2 separate regions of the Homo sapiens genome follow, and region 2 is linked to region 1. Evidence: fine-mapped expression QTL. Tissue or cell type: prefrontal cortex. Region 1 holds a variant in brackets; the other region holds the start of a gene. All regions are shown on one strand. Distances are from middle to middle.

Region 1 (4,360 bases):
GTAGCGTATATGGCAGCCATCGGTATTCACAGCCGTAACTTACTGTTTCATGAGGAGCTGACATCTACTACTTAAATAAGAGGTGATATTTCCATTTTGGCTATATTCATTAGAGCTAAATAGGTAGTTATACATCACCAAAAGTTAAGGGGAAATATCCCTATGGGGAAACTGCCAACCTTGTTCTGTTGGTCTATTAGGTCCCTTTCAAAGGTGGGGTGGTATTGCTACTGCCAGTGTGGCAAAATGAGGACACTAAGCAGAGAAACTAGTAAGCCTGTCAGTCTGCCTGTTGAAAATACAGTTTTTTTTTTGTTTTTTTTTTTTGAGATGGTGTTGCGCTCTGTCACCCAGGAGACAGTGCAGTGGCTCACTGCAACCTCTGTTTCCTGGGTTCAAGTGATTCTCCTGCCTCAGCCTCCTGAGTAGCTGGGATTAGATGCACATGCCACCATGCCCTGCTAATCTTTGTATTCTTAGTACAGTCTGGGTTTCATCATGTCGACCAGGTTGGTCTCAAACACCTGACCTCAAGTGATCCATCTGCCTTGGCCTCCCAAAGTGCTGGGATTATGGGCATGAGCCATTGTGCCAGGTAGAAAATACAGTTTTTGATTTTATATTTGTATGCACGAGAATGGATTTTCTGCTGAGAAACCCTTTATATTGTGCCATTGGAAACAGACTCAATGACTTAAATAACATAGAATTTTTGTTTTGTGCAAGTGAAGAAAGGAACCTATATCATTCTGTCTTACCAAGGAAAATGGGGAAAGGTAATATTTCCAATAAACAGAGGACACTAGATAATTTTGGAAATAAGGAGTATATAGGTTAAACTGTTAGAAAAGAGAAAATAATATAAATTAAGAAGTGGACTTTTGATCTTTCAGATAAAATAATATAAAGGGATGGAATTTTGATCTTTCCTGTTTGTTATAAGCCAGGCACTCACTTTTAATTATATGTTTGTTTTTTTTTTTGCCTTTCTCTCCTTCCTTCTTGCCACCTTCTTTCTCTACCTCCTTTCCTTACTCCCATGCTCCCTTCCTCCTTCTCTTCCTTCCTCCCTTCTTTCTTTCCTTCCTTCCTTCCTTTATTTTGTTTTTTTGAAGGTAGGGGTGAAAAAAACATTGGAACATGAGTTGTCAAGAGAAAATAGATAAGAGAGCAGACATAAACTTCCCCTCCCATTTTATTTGACAGAAAAGAATAAAAGATGGTAAAGGAAGGTAATAACTATTGACCCTCAGTATTAACTTTGTTCTCTTGGGTAAGCACATAATTAGGTTGTTCTTTAAAATGCGTATTATGTAGTTGGCAGCAGGCTCTAGCTTCAATCAGATAACTCCTTGTGTAGGCAGCTTTTAAAATGCACATCGTGGACCAAAGGAACTTTTCTGGTCTATTGGGTAAATATGTATTAAAGTAATTTTTAAAATACTTACATACTTAATAGGCTGGAAGTGGTCAATGGTTTAATGAATAGTCATACATTTTAAAAAACATATTATTATTTATGCACTGACCTGAGTGAGAAAGTCTTTTAAAAATGACATATTCCTGTTGACTGTGTAATTTTGCAGTAATATCTTAAAAGTATTTCAGGAGAACAAGAGCCAATTTTAAAATTACATTATCTCATCGTCCCTTCGCCTGATTTTTTCCTGCTTGCTCTTCCTCTTATGGGATGTATTTTAATAGTCTCATTTGATAGACTCCCTGCTGGCCTAATTTCATTTTCATAGATTAAAGCCGATTTACATTCTAATTGTAATTTTAGTGTAGAATTTATTCTATGTTGATTCATAGTGTCTGGCACATAGTAGGCACTCAGTCAATATCTATTGAATGGCTTATTTTTATATTTTTGTGTCAATTTTGCAAGCAGACACTATAGCCTTGTGCCTACTATATGCTGAGCACAGTGTAAGAAATCACTCAGAAGTTTTTCTCTTACACAAAGGTCTTATCTAGATCCTTTATTTTTAAATATTCTACTTTCAGCTTTGTCAGTTATTAGCTGCCTCTGATGAATTGGCTCTCTCTCTGCATCAGTTTCCTCATCTACAAAAGGGGAACAATAACTCCAATTTTGCAGATTTCTTATTGGGATCTGTTGAAACTCTATATGCAAAATACCCATCACAATATGTGATGCCTGGTGAGCCCTCAGCAATGCCTTTTCTCTCTCCACCTGAATTCCCACCCAGAAACATGGAAAATAGTCATTTCTAGGCAGCAGAAGTTTCCAAACTCCACAGTGCCCTAATCACAAATATCAAAAAGAAAAAATTAATAATTGAATACATAGGCAACATTCTCTGGTGTCAGGAGCACAATTCTTCAATAATTTTCCAAGTCCCATTTCCTGGCTAGGACCCCCTGTGGGCCCTGATCTCTATGATCAGCACTATCCTGGGAATCCTAGAACCTTGTTGGTTCGGTTCCTCTTGCCCTCCCCTACCAGGGTGGTTCCACCCCAATGTTTGGGTTCTTTCCTTCCCTTCTTCTCACATATCCCATGGGAGTTTT[T/GTTTTTTTT]TTTTTTTTTTTTTTGTCAGACCTCAAGATCCCTTCTGAATTTCAGAAAATCCCACAATAAACAAACTACCCTCCCCAGAGTCAGGTTTTCTAAGAGCAAACAGGGGTAATGATATCTGCTGCAGCACAACACAGTAAATAGGGTTTTGAGAATAAGCATTATTAACAGGCTCACTGAACTGCTTCAAATCCTATTTGGAGGGAGGCATGGTATAAATAAATAAACATGCTCCCTGGATCCTTACTCTCTGAGGTTTAGTGAGCTACTTCAATCTTGGAAAGGCATTAAAATTGCTGGTACATAATTGGATTTGTTTTGCTATTAGGGTGCAGATCTCTAATTTTTTCCATGTAGGCCACATTCATGGAGCAGTAGCAGTCTTATTGTGATAGAAATGCTACCGGCAGTGTGACTCTTGGGGTCACCTGAAGGATAGAGAAGGGGAAGCAAGGGATACAAATCCTCGTGTTCCCACTTACTCTTAATGCATGCCTGTTTTTTCTTGCTGGGTAAATAGATAGGCTAGTAGTTCTAGGGGTCATTGTTATTGCGCTGGTAAAGGGTGTCTATACTTTACATCCTCCGTAGTCTGGGATTAGAAGGCTTTAACTTGTTAAATGAACTTATTCGAAATGCAAATCTGATCTGTAACTTACTTTTACTTATTGTAAGATTGTTTCTATATATTTGGCCTGGTAGGCTGTTCTAAAATGTGTTGCATAGCTACGCATGACTATTTTTAATAAGAAATTATTATTTTTTAAACCATCAGCAGCAGAAAGCAGTTTTCTCTTCCCAGTAGAAATGGAGAGATAAAGGAAAGTTAGAAAGTTTTCCAAAAGGCTAAAGGAAAAGTTAGAATTATCCGAAAAAAAGTGATGTACTGGATATATCCTTTTAGAGACAAGCTTGAGTCTAACCACAACTTTGAGGCATATATAAGTCTTTGGACAAAGAGAACAAGCAGAGGTTTGAGGGGGACATCTTAGTTTCAAGGCAAGCTGATGGGAAGATTTAAAGGGAAAGAGTGAACACAAATTTAGAAGAAAGCCTCAAGTGTAGGCTCTGATTCTTCAGTAGAGGGAGTCCAATTTAATTAGTGGAAATATAGTTCAGTTTAGAGATAACTAGGAAGACATAGCCTGCCCTGTTTGTTAATAGAACAGCTTATCTCCTTCAGGGTAGCTAAGAGAACAGATATCAGAGAAATTAGGTGAAAAATGTACCCCTGCAGCAATAGACATTGATATAACTGAAACTTTTCTCAGTGTAACTTCAGAGGCTCTTGCTTCAGGATAATAAAAACGTTTTCCCAGAGTACTCATTGAAAGATGGGGGTTGAGGTGGTGACGAGTTAACATGCATAGCACAGATATTGTTTAAAAATGGGGGCATGTAAAAGGGACCTAAGAGAAGGTTGTTTTACAAGAAAGGCAGGAGCGTACCTTAGGAAAGGATATTACATGATAAGCAGGGATGACCTAGATGCACTCAAAATCTATAATCTCAGATAAGAAAGGTGGTTCTAGAATCGAGAGCTAGAGGTCAGAGATAGCCCTAGGGAAACCAAGATTTTTAAGATAAATGTGAACAAAATAGCAAAAATGTGGAGCTCTGTCTTGTCAGTGGAATACTGATAGCCATACTTCAACACAGCGTGCTGAAGGAATCTTTAGGGAAAGGCAAAATCTGAACGTACAATTTGTACAATGTACAAATTACACCCTCAACACCCTTCGTGGCCATTTCTGGAGCATATCTTTCTTGTCCTTTCTATTCATTTAGAATATCTTTTTGTTTTGTTTTGTTTACCTACTCTTGCAT
Region 2 (4,180 bases), 560 kb before region 1:
ACCTTTCATGTTGTGTTGATAGCAAGGGTTTTCCAAATAGATTAACCTCCCTGAATTTTGATTGCCCACTATTTCCCAAATCCCTTCAAGGCATTCTCTGTATGCTACACAATACACTAAGTATATATAAAGAAAGGAGTATATTACTCCATTCTTTATATAGGTAAAGCCTAAACTCCTTTTCTTGGAATATAGGCTCTCCAGATCTGAAGTCTGCCTAATTATTTACACTTTTGCTTTCACATACCCTTTGAACTTTCTCACATTGTCTTCGTGTTTGCATGTGCTGCTCCAGCTTCTAAGCATGCCCTCCCTGTCCTCATACCCCATTCCCCAGCCACTTATTACGCTATATGCTGTAGTCCCATTCAGCTCGGTTGCAACCTCTTCCCTAATGAATCAGTCCATCATTAACAAAGAAAGGGAGGGAGGGAGGGAGGAAGAGAGGAATGAAAGGAGGAAAAGGGAAGGAAGGGGAAGGGAAGGGGAAGGGAAGGGGAAGGGAAGGGAAGGGAAGGAAGGGGAAGGGAAGGAATGGGAGGAAAAGGGACAAATAATGAATGATATGCTCTAATCTTTTTCCCCTAGATATAGAAGACAAAGAGCAAAATATACTTCACTAAAATTGGATTTTTACATAAATGTTCTTTCCTTTGTTTTTTGGTTGCTGGTCCACTTACAAACACTTTTCATATTTGTATGTCTTTCCAATGGTTATCCTGTTTTGTTCATTTCAGGCATATGGCCCTGATCAGATTAACTGACATGATGTATATGCAAAGCCTTTTGAGTTCTTCAGAAAAATAAATTATCTTATTCAAGACTGATTGCTTATAAGGAACTTATTATAGCTAATATAGTAGGCACAATTTTTTTTTTGTAATTCTCCTAGATGAGTCAGAACTTAGTTTTGACGTAGGTAAAAATTTTATGGTCACAAATCTCAGGTGTGAGAAAATCTCTTTCCTTGATACTCTATATAAATAGAGGATATAAATATTTCAAGTCTGGAAGTAGTGAGAGAAGCTGGTAATTCTGGACATATAGTGACAGTCAAAAAGGAGCTCAGGTACAGGACTGGTCTAAGCTGCTCAAGATTCAGGAGACAGCCAGTACACAGAGAAGCTGAGGAGATACATAAGATATATCTAAAACATTTATCTAACCTTCTGTGGTAACAAGCTCCTTAAAGGGGCTGGATGATGTTGTGTTCACTTTTTATCACCAGCAAAGGCTAAGATAATGTATATAGTAAATATTTAGTAACTATTTATTAAATAAATAAATATTTAAGACAGAATAAACAAGTATAATAAATGAACCAATAAGAATGCACCATCTAAGTCAAAATAGCCACTTTTATCCTTAACATTGTACCTGCTTTGGCTGCTGCAGAAGCAAACTTGTTGGCATTAGACAAATCAAGCTGGTGATTTAATAAATTCCAATGTAAGTCTTACCAGTATTGATGAATAACTATCCAGCACTCACCATGAAAGTTAAAGAAACAACACAGAAAAAGTTCCTAAGTGGTCCCAATTTGAAATGATCAGATAACCTATAAAAGAACATATTCATATTATACTAACATAAACACATATAAATGCACTTACAGCAGTTACACAGTATTCTCTTCAATAACTAGTTTCCTTATGCATTAATGTGTAATAACAGCAACTACAATATTTAGATAATTATAAAAACCAAGGCAATAATTTAAAAACTGATTAACCGTTTTACTCTAACTTAAGCATGGATTGGATCAGTAAGATTGATTAATAAATTTGAATGCAGTCAGTTGGATTGATTCTAATTTAAAGTTTTAATTTGTTGTAGAATAATTTTAAGTGAATATATTTGTCCAGTGTTCGAGTGCTCAACAGTGTGTTTGAAAAGGAAAACAAAGAAATGTTTTTGAGAAATGTGTTAATTCCTTAAGACAATGGATTTTAATTGGATCTAGTTGTTTTCATTTTTCTTCATTATCATTATACATCTGTATGTTGGACAGAACACTAACACTAAATAGTTTTTAGAAAAATTTTTTAAAGTTATTTAAATCATAATATCATGACTGACTTTTAAATTCAAAATTAGGCTGTGACTATCCTTCTTCACTTAGGAAGAGTGTTGTGAAAGCCAGACCATCTGCTGAGGTGCTACAGTTACATGTGGCCCTCAGAATGCATTTGGCCTGCTCTGTTTTAGCACTCTGTTGGATTACCAATACACAAAACAAGTTAACCTTGATCTTTCACATTAAGTATCTCAGGGACAAAATTTGACATACGTCTAAACCTGTGACGTTTCCATCTAAAGAAGGCAGAAATAAAACAGGACTTTAGATTCGGTTACAATAAAATATCAGATGCACCAGAGACACAAGGCTTGAAGCTCTGTCCTGGGAAAATATGGCAAACAGTGCCTCTCCTGAACAGAATCAAAATCACTGTTCAGCCATCAACAACAGCATCCCACTGATGCAGGGCAACCTCCCCACTCTGACCTTGTCTGGAAAGATCCGAGTGACGGTTACTTTCTTCCTTTTTCTGCTCTCTGCGACCTTTAATGCTTCTTTCTTGTTGAAACTTCAGAAGTGGACACAGAAGAAAGAGAAAGGGAAAAAGCTCTCAAGAATGAAGCTGCTCTTAAAACATCTGACCTTAGCCAACCTGTTGGAGACTCTGATTGTCATGCCACTGGATGGGATGTGGAACATTACAGTCCAATGGTATGCTGGAGAGTTACTCTGCAAAGTTCTCAGTTATCTAAAGCTTTTCTCCATGTATGCCCCAGCCTTCATGATGGTGGTGATCAGCCTGGACCGCTCCCTGGCTATCACGAGGCCCCTAGCTTTGAAAAGCAACAGCAAAGTCGGACAGTCCATGGTTGGCCTGGCCTGGATCCTCAGTAGTGTCTTTGCAGGACCACAGGTAAGCCATTATACACAAACTTATTTGGATATGGTGATCATAGATTTCCTATCTAAATTTGATATAAGGTCTTATCAAAGGAAGTACTGTATTACCTTTAAGAGCTTGGGTTCTGGAAGTCAGAGAGTGAAGTTTAATTCTGGCTCTGTTCTGTTACCTTGGGCAAACTTCTTAACCTCTCTGGTTTCAGTTCCTTTACCGATAAAATGTAACATGGGGGTTAATGCTTACTTAATACTGCTTTTGTGATGAATAAATAAATAAAGTAGCTCACATAATCTCTATTATGTAGCAAATGCTTCCCCAAAAAAAATGCGATTCTCAAACTTGACCTTATCTCCATCCTATTCTTTTATCTGTTTTTCTTTTTGTTTTGGTTGACATGGCTTTAATGTTTAGTTGAGATAATTTTTAGGAATTATGAAATTTGCCTAGGTAGAAAATATTTATAATGTTTCTTATTTAGGGTTTCTTCAGTGGAAATTTTAAGAATTCTGTCACTGCAGCTTAGAGAGAATTATTCTTTGTTAGTATGTTGCTCTGCAGTTTGCAGCTAAGTGGGACTGAATATAGAAGAAAAGTAAGACATCTTGGATGTTTGGAAATCCAAATATTTCCCTAAAGTTAGCTTGAGTTTTGCTGGAGGCAGCTTATTGAGAAAGCCATATGACTGACAGAGTAGGCACAGGCCCTCCCCACAGAGGGCAATTATCTTTCCAGGTTGCCTTCACCAGAAGCAGCCTAGTTAACTGACCTGCTGAACCTGCCATTTTAACAATCAGATCCCCGAAGAAAAGGACAAATTCTTGAAAATAACAAAGAATGTTAATAGCAGATGAACAAGTTTTCTCTTGCATTTAAATGTACTACATGATAAACCCAGGATACAAGGATGTGTCAAGAAATAAATCAGAATTAACTAGGATCCTCCAAAACTTGCCTCTGAAAATGGAAATTTATCTAGACTTTTTTTTACTGACCAGATGGTTAAAAAACAACAACAACAAAAAAAAACTGCCATGCAGAACTCACTATATAGCACAAGACACTAGAAAGCTGGATAACTGTTTTATCCCATCAATTTCTCACTTTAATATTTCTTTTGAATATGTGTGTGTTTCATAATAAGAATAATGGGAAAAACTAAAATGTTTTCATTTTCTGAAGAAAAATATATGATTTATTTCACAGTGATGCAATACATAAGAATAAGTTTAGCAAATATATCACCTGAAATGAGGTGATTT

The links. PIP is the estimated chance that this variant, and not a neighbour inherited with it, causes the effect.
Region 2: it holds the start of GNRHR, and the variant in region 1 is fine-mapped to the expression of GNRHR in prefrontal cortex (CommonMind, PIP 0.94).

Annotation. Positions count from the first base shown.
Region 1 is chr4:67,191,426-67,195,785 of GRCh38, reverse strand. No RefSeq gene overlaps it. Among named protein-coding and RNA genes, the nearest start is that of CENPC, 350 kb to the left of the region's middle. The variant T/GTTTTTTTT (reference allele first, on the strand shown) is at 2,536.
Region 2 is chr4:67,752,567-67,756,746 of GRCh38, reverse strand. It overlaps GNRHR (gonadotropin releasing hormone receptor), which reads left to right and starts at 2,359. Exons shown (of 3, transcript NM_000406.3): 1 at 2,359-2,933. The coding sequence starts at 2,412.